Linked DNA regions of Homo sapiens: region 2 is linked to region 1. Evidence: fine-mapped expression QTL. A gene starts in region 1. The other region holds a variant in brackets. All regions are shown on one strand. Distances are between the middles of the regions. Region 1 holds the start of ZNF862 (zinc finger protein 862). Region 2 overlaps ATP6V0E2-AS1 (ATP6V0E2 antisense RNA 1).

The links. PIP is the estimated chance that this variant, and not a neighbour inherited with it, causes the effect.
Region 2: its variant is the best candidate, but not a certain one, in a credible set for the expression of ZNF862 in whole blood (TOPMed, PIP 0.58).

The regions. Positions count from the first base shown.
Region 1 is chr7:149,835,779-149,841,150 of GRCh38, reverse strand. It overlaps ZNF862 (zinc finger protein 862), which reads right to left and starts at 2,776. Exons shown (of 8, transcript NM_001099220.3): 1 at 2,516-2,776. The coding sequence starts at 2,539. RefSeq lists a silencer at 2,241-2,700.
Region 2 is chr7:149,867,732-149,873,103 of GRCh38, reverse strand. ATP6V0E2-AS1 (ATP6V0E2 antisense RNA 1) reads left to right here. Exons shown (of 4, transcript NR_027040.1): 2 at 1,308-1,462; 3 at 2,753-2,862; 4 at 3,246-5,372. It also overlaps a transcript of ATP6V0E2 not described here. Among named protein-coding and RNA genes, the nearest start is that of ATP6V0E2-AS1, 3.4 kb to the left of the region's middle. The variant C/T (reference allele first, on the strand shown) is at 2,945.

The DNA of each region.
Region 1 (5,372 bases):
CAACACATCTTACACTGACAGTTGGTTTTGTAATTACTTTATTTCATTCTTGTATGAAGTTCTCATTTCCCATATTAGAAAACAACTATCTTTGGGAAGGGTGAGCACCTTTCTGAGATACCCTAAAATCAAGATTATAATCAAGGGTGAAATTTCCAGTCTCTGAGGTTTCACTTAGTGGTTGGACAGGACACGGAATCAGGTTTCTCCTCTACCTCCCAAAATGTTTGTACAGTCATGTGTTGCTTAACAACAGGGATAAGTTCTAGGAAATGTGTCCTTAGGCAGTTCTGTCATTGTGGAACATCACAGAGTGTACTTATACAAAACTACATGGTACAGCCTACTACATATCTAGGCTATATGGTATATAGCCTTTTGCCCCCTAGGCTACAATCCTACACAGTATGTTACTGTACTGAAAACTGTAGGCCACTGTAACACATGGTAAGTATTTGCGTATCTAAACATAGAAAAGGTACAGTAAGAATATGGTAGAAAAGACAAAAAAAAAAAAAAGGTCCATCTGTATTGGGCACTTACCATGAATGGAGCTTGCAGGACTGGAAGTTGCTCTGGGTGAGTGAGTGAGTGAGTGAGTGAGTGGTGAGAGAATGTGAAGGCCTAGGACATGACTGAACACTTCTGTAGACTTTATAAACACTGCACACTAAGGCTACGCCGAATTTATCAAAAATTTTTCTTTCTTCAATAATAAATTAACCCTAGCTTATTGTAACTGTTTTACTTTATAAACTTAATTTTTTAAACTTTTGACTCTTTTGTAATAACACTTAGCTTAACACACATTGTACACCTGTACAATATTTTTCTTTAAATATTTTTGTATTTTTATTTTCCAGCAAACCATTCCATCAACAAAAAGTATTTTTCTTTATATTCTAATTCTATGAGGTTTTGTATTTTTAAATTTTTTTTTTTTTTTTTTTTTTTTTTTTTTTTACTTTTTAAGCTTTCTTAAAACCTAAGACACAAACACACACATTAGCCTAAGCCTACACAGGGTCAGGATCATGAAGATGTCACCAGGTGATAGGAATTTCTCAGCCCCACTGTAGTCTCAGGGGATTGTACGTGAGAGCGGTGTTGATGGAAACCTTGTTATACAGCGCATGACCGTATTTCTCTTCTCCCGTTAAAGGCTAAGAAAGCCTCTGACTGAACAGAATAGCTTGGAAATCAACTTCAAATCACTGATACCAATATCAATCCCAATATTTTATAATCCTTCTTCCCCCTACATTTTGCTTCTCTTTATTCAAATTCAGGTTCAATCTAAACCAATCTGGGGATATTTCCAAAGGGTAAGGGCCATAAGCTCCATCTTTGCTTGGGTTTTGTTGAGCTTTATTGGCTTGGACCACGTACTCTGTAGGTGCCGTGTCTGCTACATGCATCACTGTAGCTTGTGGAGGGAGGGAGGATGGAAGAGATGCTCATGCGAGAAATCACCTCTTTTGAAATTCAGAGTCCTTCCTAGTCTTCCCAGGAAAAACTACAGCATCAAAAGAACCTCATTATCCTTTTCTCTCTTTTCGTGTGGGACAACCCTTTCAGGCGTGTCCAAGTTATTGAAGTGAAAACTGCAGGAGAGCTCCTTGAGAAAGGTGATCATTTCCTATTTATCCTCATACTTCCAGCATCTCGTTCAATGCAAATCACAGATCACAAATGTTTATTAAATGGACAGTTTTTTAAGGGACTCAATAAACAGTCGAAAACGTTTGTTGAGAGAATTCTCCTCTGTGCCAAATAAGAAACAATACTCAAGAACTGGCAGCAAACAACATCCAGAAAGATGTTAGTCCCAAGAGGCTGCCACTGTCTCCAAGCTAATGTGCCCACAACCACACTGGTCTTGGATGACACGGCCTGGAAGCGCTGGCAATCCCGTCAAATCCCTGAACTCCGCCCCCAAGCACTTTCTTTCCACCTTTTCTTCCAACTCAAAGCCTCTTGCCCAAAGCCAATTTATGACACAGGTTTCTAAGCAATGCCCAGATATTCCATGAAGTACATAACCTAGAAACAGAAGTGGCAAAAAGCATGCCAGATGCCCTCTCTTTTCAGCCCTTTCTTGGTAAGGAGGATCTAGGCAGGGTCAAGCCCTCAAGCGTCCCACCCTGCAGCTCCCACTGGCGTCCGATCCAGACTCCAAGCCTTAGCAGGGCCTCTTCAAAACGCCGAAGGTGGTGGGGAAAACAGGAAGCACCTTCGCATCGCTCCACTCGGGGGTCACCCAACCCAGCATCGACCCAGCGGACGCTCGGCAGCTCGGGGAGGATGCGCGGACACCGAACGGAAGCGTCCGCTCCTCTCCGCCACCCTCCCGGGGTCGGGCGCCGAAGTGCGGGAAGAGAGGGCGGGCCGGCGAGTCCTTCCCTGCAAGCCTGGCTCATCTGCGGGGCCTCCGCCCGAGCCGCCCCGCCTCGCCCGAGCCCGGCTCGGGGATCCTCGGGAGGGAGCGGGCGGCCCCCGGGCCTTCCAGTCCTACCTTCCCCGACTCTCTGGGCTCCATGGCCCCGCTTTCGGAGGCCCGTGCCGCCCCCTCCCCCCGCGGCCTGGCCTGAGGATGCAGCCGCCGCGACCGCCCCGGGGACCCAGGCTCCCGGAGGGGGAGGGCACCCAGGTAGGGAGGGAGCGCGGCCCAAGAACTTCGCTCTCTCACGTCGGGGGGCGGTAGCGCCGGTGGACCCAGGATAAGCGCGCTGAGCTGAGACTTGCGTCGCACCGAGCGAACAGCTTTACGGTCACTGCCCAGCCCCAGGCGGCGGGGCGTGACGGGAAGTGTAGTCCGCTCTAGGTGAGCGGCTCTCGAAGCTGCTATTGGCTCCCGGAACGCAGGTCCTGATTGGACGCCGGCGGCGCGCTTGCGACCCTCCCCGCCTCCCTCCGGCGACAGTTACTAGGCAACGGCGGCGTGGCGTCCTTTAGTCCTCTGCAGCAAGGGCAAAGCGCTCTGATTGGGCTACGCGAAGGCCAATGTCAGCCTTGAAGTTCTAGGTTTTCTTTTATTAAGGAGGGCAATACTTTTTGTTCTATTCACTCAAAAAGTATCATTGGTTGCCTACCATGGGTCAGGCCGTGTTCTAGGGTTTGGGAGAACACAGTTGAATGAGACAAAGGCCTTGCCTTCAAGGAACTCACGATCTATTAGGGAATCAGACCAGAAACAGATAATTACAAAACAGAGACAAGGGCTATGAAAGAGGTAAGCACAAAACATGAATTAAAGCCCGCGTTGTCACCTTAGAGTGAAGCGGTGGGGGATATGAGGTGCTTAGTCAAGGATTTCCTGCGGAAGTGATGCCTCAGCAGAATTAAAGCAAGAGGTAGGGTCTGCCAGGTAAAGGAGGTGCAATGGACTGACCGGTGTTCCCCTCCCAGGAGATGGGGCGTTTGGGAGGTTTAGATGAAGTCGTGAGGGTCAGGCCCTTATGGTGGGATTAGTGTCCTTATAAGAAGTTTTGTCCAAGTGCGGTGGCTCACACCTCTAATCCCAACTCTTTGGGAGGCTGAGACAGGAGGATCACTTGAGCCCAGTAGTTTGAGACCAGCCTGTGCAACACAGTGAGAGATCCCATCTCTATAAAAATAAAATAATTTTGTGAGGTGGAAGGATCACTTGAGCCTGGGTGGTCGAGGCTGCAGTAAGCCGGGATGGCGCTTCTGCACTCCAGCCTGGGTGACAGAGCAAGACCATGTCTCAAAAAAAAAAAAGACTTTTAGGGGGCCAGGGCAGGGATGTGCCTTCATGAAGGTGTTAGTGACCACATGCGTGCTGGGGGAACTAGCTAGGCCCTTTGCCCTTCTGCCCCTCTGCCTTCTGCCATGTGAGGACAGAGCAAAAAGGTGCCCTCCTGGAAGCAGAGACCAGGCTCTCACCAGACACAGACACTGCTGGTGCTTTGATCTTGGATTTCCCAGCCTCCAGAATCATAAGAAATAAGTATCCATAATTTATAAATTACCTAGTTCCAGGGATTTTGTTACAGAAGCACATAGAGATTAAGACAATGGTCAACTAATTTTTTTGTATTTTTAGTAGAGACAGGGTTTCACCATGTTACACAGGCTTCAAGTAAGCGTTTTCCATTATCCAGCTCTGCTCTTCTGGCCAAGGTTGAATAGACCTAAATTCCGTTCGAGGAGTGTAGGGGAGTCTGCATTACTGAAAAAAAGAATGAGACACAAGAAATGTGGAGGAGAAGGCAGAGAGTGAGGACTCTGTGGATTCCAAGTGGCCTGCCACTCACCACCTCGACTATATCACTACCTTGAAGAGCTATATTTCTGCCCATGAGTTATCCATGTCTTTATAACAGATTCTCTTTTAGGGGTTAAAAAACTGGAGGACAGCTAGGGTAAATCATTCTTTTGACACATTTTTCCATAAAAGGTTTTCCATCTTTCCAAGAAAAATGGAGCAGTATCTAGGGGGAAATGGGGAATCAAAGCAGTAGGACTAAGATATGAGTCACAAGATCTTGTTTCTGTGTTGATGGGAAGGAAACTGATGATTCAAAGGGGGATAGTGCAAGGAACCAAGTCCTTGAGAAATCAGGAGGGTCTAGGAACAGGGTATCGAGGGCCCTTCCTAGGGATAGGAACACTTTTTTTTTTTTTTTTTTTTTTGAGATGGAGTCTCTCTCTGTCACCCAGGCTGGAGTGCAGTGGCTCAATCTTGGCTCACTGCAACCTCCACCTCCCAGGTTCAAACAATTCCCCTGTGTCAGCCTCCTGAGTAGCTGGGACTACAGGCGTGCACCATCACACCCTGCTAATTTTTGTATTTTTAGTAGAGACAGGATTTCACCATGTTGGCCAGGCTGGTCTCGAACTCCTGACCTCAAGTGATTCACCTGCATTGGCCTCCCAAAGTGCTGGGATTACAAGCCTGAACCACCGCGTCTGGCCGGGATAGCAACACTTTTGGTTATGCCAGGAGGGAAGAAGAAGATGGAGTAGATGTACATTTGTTTGTAGATTTACTGAGGGAATTTCCATCCGATGATGTCTCTTTGAGACAAGATCATCTCATGAAAATGAAGTGGGGAATAGAAGGTATACCAAGTCATCTTGGAGAATGGGAAATAGAGCTTACCTCAAACCTTGAATTAAAGGCCAATTTGAAGTTTATGATCACAAATTTCAGTTTAAAAAAAGCCTGGCTGCGAAATTCTGTTTAGAAGCAGAAAGTTGGGTAGATATTTGGCTTCATCCTGGCTTGGAGTATTGCCAGGTAGGTATGAAGGAGGCACAGAAAAGCAAGGGAATGAACAGTACTTGCAGGAGTAATTATGATGGTAGGAAAGTGATTCTCAATTCCAGCTGCACATTGGAATCACCCA
Region 2 (5,372 bases), 32 kb before region 1:
AGAGACCACGGAGCCTGCTTTCCTCCTTCGGCGTTTGGATCTCACATATCCCTTCTTCTCTGGCGATCAAAAATCCCTATCTTCTGTAGAGATCCCTTTTACAGATCAGTGGCCTCCAGGCGGTATCTCTAGCAACAAGTGCTACCCCAAGCGGCCGGCCACACATATTCCCTGGCTTCATGACATAGGGAGGCGCAGTCCCCACGTGATGCAGAAGGGAAATGTGCCTGTCCTTGCACTGACCCCGTCAGCCATGTGTGCTCCTGGCTGTTTTCTGAAATCAAGAACCAGTTACATCCGCCCTTCTCCGTTCTCTAGTTGAAACCTCCCTATCCATCCTTCCAACATTCATGTAAGTTGGAGGTGGGCGTGGGATGACACCAAACTGTTAGGTATAAAATACCATCCTAGCCTTCGAGGGGTTTCTAAAGTAGTTGAGGAGTGATATATTCTGGTAAAATCATAATGCTGGACAGCGCAGTTCTAAGAGCCCTGTGATCAAAGTAGCCAAATGCCCATTATGAGAATTCAGAGGGTGGAGAAATCCAGGAAGACTCCCTGGAGGAGGTGAGATTTTAGCTGGATTGTAAACAATGGTTATTTTTCTCATCCAGAGTGTGTACATTGTTGAGAACACTGGCCTAGGATAAGGGTGCACTTGGCATCCAGGAGATAGAGTTAAGAGTATGTCCATACAGGCCTTCAAAAAATCACCACGAGGGCTGAGCGCAGTGGCTCACACCTGTAATCCCAGCACTATGGGAGGCAGAGGCGGGCGGATCACGAGGTCAGGAGATCGAGACCATCCTGGCTAACACGGTGAAACCCCGTCTCTACTAAAAATATAAAAAAATTAGCTGGGCATGGTGGCGGGCACCTGTAGTCCTAGCTACTTTGGAGGCTGAAAGGAGAATGGCGTGAACCCGGGAGGCAGAGCTTGCACTTGCAGTGAGCCGAGATTGTGCCCCTGCACTCCAGCCTGGGGGACAGAGTGAGACTCCGTCTCAAAAAAAAAAAAAAAAAAAAAATCACCACGAAAGTTCTATAGCTCAAAAAAGACGGACTTTTTGAATTTTGTTCTGGAAAAAAAAAAATCCTCTGTAGAAAATGACAGCTGTAAAGTGAAATGTATTTCCTTCTTTGCCTCTGCTCCTTTGTCTTGGCTTTGGCCAGAACCAAAAACATTGCTGAGTCTGAGCAGCCACTCATATTAGCAGCCTGCAGCTCTTACTCTTTTCCTTTAATGTCTTTGATGTTTCATTTCTGTCCTAATTTGCATGTGATTGCCTGTGTCATTTGTTTGGCAGCTTTGTGATGGTCTGAGGTCCATGAAGGGATTAAAACCAGGAACTGGCTCCTTCTCCAACCACTAAAGCCTCATCTGGGCCCACAAGCCCTGGCTGTTCCCTGGAGCGTGACTGGAAGATGTGAGCAGCTTTGTGCTGGAGCCCCATTTCCATGGGTAAACTGTTCACCTGATCAAACAGCTCCCCAGAGTTCCACAGTACCACATATTTATTTTCTAGAACTTTGTTTTTAGCTGAAAGGGATCTTAGAGGCTAAGGCAATCCTATCACTTTACAGGTGATAAAACTGAGGCCCAGAGAAGTGAAGTAACTTGCCTAGGCCCACACAGCTCATCAGTAAAAGAGCCAGAACACATGGCCGAGACTTCTCCCTAATCCAGCGTCTCCTCCACACTCCCAGCTCACCCCTAGGGTTTGTGCCCAGGCTGAGGACACTATTTTCAGAGGCACTAATGTGAGGCAAAGGGCATGTTACCAGACACAGCCCCGCCTACCCCGGTCCCCTGAGGTGGAGCTGTGCATTCCACTGGCTTCACGGTTCCCCTCTGCCCTGGCGGCTTCTGGTTGGTATTGGCGCCACCGACTGCTCTGCCATGGCTCCTCAGTGAGTGCTTTGGGTGTGATTGACAAGTTTCCATGACATCTCCCAGGGAGTGGGGTCCTGATGTTGGTGACATCTCTATCGTTCATCTTTTCATGGGGCTGATGAATTCCTAGAAAGGGTAGAAGGAGAAGGAGCCACTGAAAGAGGCTCTTTAAAACTTCCCTGAGTGTCCCCCAGTGCAAATGAACAGGAGCCCCAGGACACTTGAAGGCCCTAGGAAATCACACCTCAGAGCCACAGATGCATCCTAATGCTCTCTGCAGACGGGGCACGTGTCGGAGGTGAGAACAACAGCTCCAGATGTCTCTGTCTTTGCAAATAAGGCCTGTGACATTTAATGATGTAACCACCTACCTTCCACCCATTGTTCTGGTGGCCATGAGTAGAAGGAATTATACCAGGATGTGATAAGAAGGAATTAGGAGCTGGGAGTCTTGCTGGGTGAGGACCTTGGCCCCTTGCTTGCTTGCCATCTAATAGGGGCACTCCTGGCCTGTGGGGTCAGGGAGAACTAGACCCAGAGCATGGTTGTCTCTGTGACTAGTTGAGCCTGTTTCTCCTTCAAGGGCCCTGGCAGTGGGAAAACATATTATGACAATTGCACTGTTTTATCAGCCCTTGGCACTCCTGAAGTTGCCCTGAAATAAACATCCCTACCTGTATGCCAGGCCCTGCCTACTTCTGGAGCTCTCTTAGGTTTACAACCTACCCCCGCTGTCCCAAATTGATAGGGTGAGCCCAGGGCATTAAATGGGTGGTGCAAGTCAGGCTTCAGGACTGACACGGGTCTATGTGCGCTCAGTGTGGGTTGAGGGGCACTGGGCTGTCTTTCTCCCTACAGTGCATGCTGCTGCCAAACCAGAGATCACTTGTAGACTTGAAAGGGAACATGAGCTTTGGGTGAAGGATTCCCAGCCCCCAACAGAGGCCAAAAAGCTACCACCCAGCCAGGTAAGCCTTGATGGAACATCTCTTGCACAAAGATCACCATGTTCATTGAGCCTTTAGTGCCTCCTGGGCTCTGATCAACCCA[C/T]GAATCAGTATCTCCGCAGCACTTCCTGTGGTTTGGATTCAGGTTTTTTACTTCTGTTTCCTGCCTTTATGATAGGAGTTTGGGTAACCTGTGAGAAACACAGCCACAGTGTAAACCTCTTGAGACAAGCTACACTGATGGGACAATCAGGGTGAGGGCAATCCGGCGCCGTGGCTATGTCAGCTCATGTGTGCTCTTTCAGGAGGACATGTCTCACAGACACAGATCTTCAGCTCTGACATGCTCGATCTCACAAGCCCTTTTCTGAAACCTCCATCATGTGCTTTCTGATTCTCTACAGGCAGAAGGAACATAAAGTATGCATTTTATGATACGACTCAGCTTGGAGGGATGAAGTAGAAGGTCCTCACTGCACCTCATGGCAGGCTGCTGACGGCAGATATTTTACCGGGCTCACTGAACTGGGCAGTCAGGGAAGGGTCGGCTCCTGCTCTGTCCAGCTGTCTTCATAAGGGACTCTGTGACACTTTTTATAAAAATGACTTTGATTTCTGCATAAGAAGGCTTCCCAAGCTTGCTGTCTAGCAGTGGCTGCTACAGGGAATTATTCACATGGCAGCAAGAGAGCCCTGGCTCCCTGGACCAGGACATTCCCTTTGTGTGTGTTGGAATGAGAGCAGGAGGAGTGCTGGTCAGAAGCCCCTCCCCAGGGCTCTGGGACTTCAGTGTTCTCAGACAAACTGGGCCGCTCCTCTGAGCTGGGATGCTGACCCACACTTGGCCCCGGCTCTGGCATCCACAGGACGCTGCCTTATCCGTCATCTCGCTGGGGCTGGGGGCTAGAGGCTGAGCAGGTCACACTGAACAAAAGAAGTGTGTCCCCATCACTAGGCTAACATCTGAGTTTCTTCCACAGTATTTGGTAACACAGTCAGAAACAAGACTGAAGATGATTCTGGAGGCAACTGGGAACCCCCCAGAACGATTCTGCAGGCTTCTGGGAAGCTGAAAAACCCCAAGGCCAGACTGGCCTCAGAATGCCTGAGTCCTTTTGATTCCACTGGAAAAGCCATCCATCTGTGCCAAGTGTGTGGAGAGCTTCAAGAGCCATATAGCCCTGGCCACCATGAGCACAGCCACGTGGGGGAGTAGTCCTGAAAGTGTCCTGGTGTGGCAAAGGCTTTCCACTAAGTGGACCTCAGATGGCACAGGAAGACCCTCCTGGGGATGTGGGAGGACACTGCCTAGTGGGTGAGGGGCCGCTCTTTCAGGTGTGCACACTAAATGCAGAGACAGCCTCTCCTGGCTGCCAAGAAGCCTGTGCATGATCCAGGACCACAAAACACTTGCAAACTCACTGCCCAGAGGCCCTGTGCCTGTCTGGAGTGTGCCCAGTGTGTCTGCGCCCCACAGCTTGTCCTGGCCCGCCAGCAGAGCCGCAGCACTGCAGGGCCCTTCTGTTGTGAGTGCCAGGGCCCTTGCTGGCTGCCTGAGCAAGGCAAAAGGTTCAAAACAGGAAGTCTCTGGGCAGCTATTCCCAGGTGCAGAGGGGAGCAGCGGCCACACAGGTGCCAGTGTGGCAGGAGCTGCAGTCAGAGGCAGCATCTCAAGAGCCCTGGGAGCAGGGGCCAGCCACGTGAAGCCCACGAGTGTCGCTGGCACAGGGAAGGGACACGAGGATCACACTGACCCAAGAGAAGGCCCACAGTGAGGAGGCCCCACCGAAGCATCCCCAGCAACAGGGACTGAGGCATCTGAGGCAGCCAGCCCACTCGGAAAGGCCTGCTGACTGCACTCCAGATGTCAAGAGCACCCTTGGGAAAAAGAAAGGCAGGAGTGCAGCACTTTCTAGAGCCTCAGCTCACTTCTCTCCTTCTAGCTCCAGCCGGAGTGATGGAAGAGGCTGCGCTGGGAGCTGCCTCCCTGGGAGCCTACCCTGCCCAGCCTGAGAGTGGAGGCTACCAGCATCACGCTTCCCCTAGTGAAATCCATCTGTCCTGAAGGGAACCCTGGGACGGGGTCAAGGAAACCCTGTTCACCCCCACCACGGGGTCAGGTCTTCACCAAAGGGAGGCCGCACGGATTCCCAGTCGCAAACCCAAAGCCTTGCTGCCTTTGCCTCTGTTTCCATAGTTGTTTCAATGTCTTTTTTAAAAATCACATACACTCGAGTAAGACTGAGTCTCCTCACCGAAGAGATCTGGCTGTATCCCGAGTCTCTGAAACCTTTGCTCCAGTCCCGTGGGAGCGTGCCGTCCCGAGGATGTGGAGCCGCAAGGGCTCGCCAGAGGGATCTCAGGAGCTAGGCCTCAAGGAGCGCTGTTGAGTGACAGGTCTGATGCAGTAGCTTTTACTATTGGTGGAAATCGATGTTTTTTCCTTGAAAGTCTACCTTTCTAAGTTCAGTAAACCAAATTAGATCATGTATGTGAAAGCACTTTGTAAACTATGCAGTACTCCAGAAAAG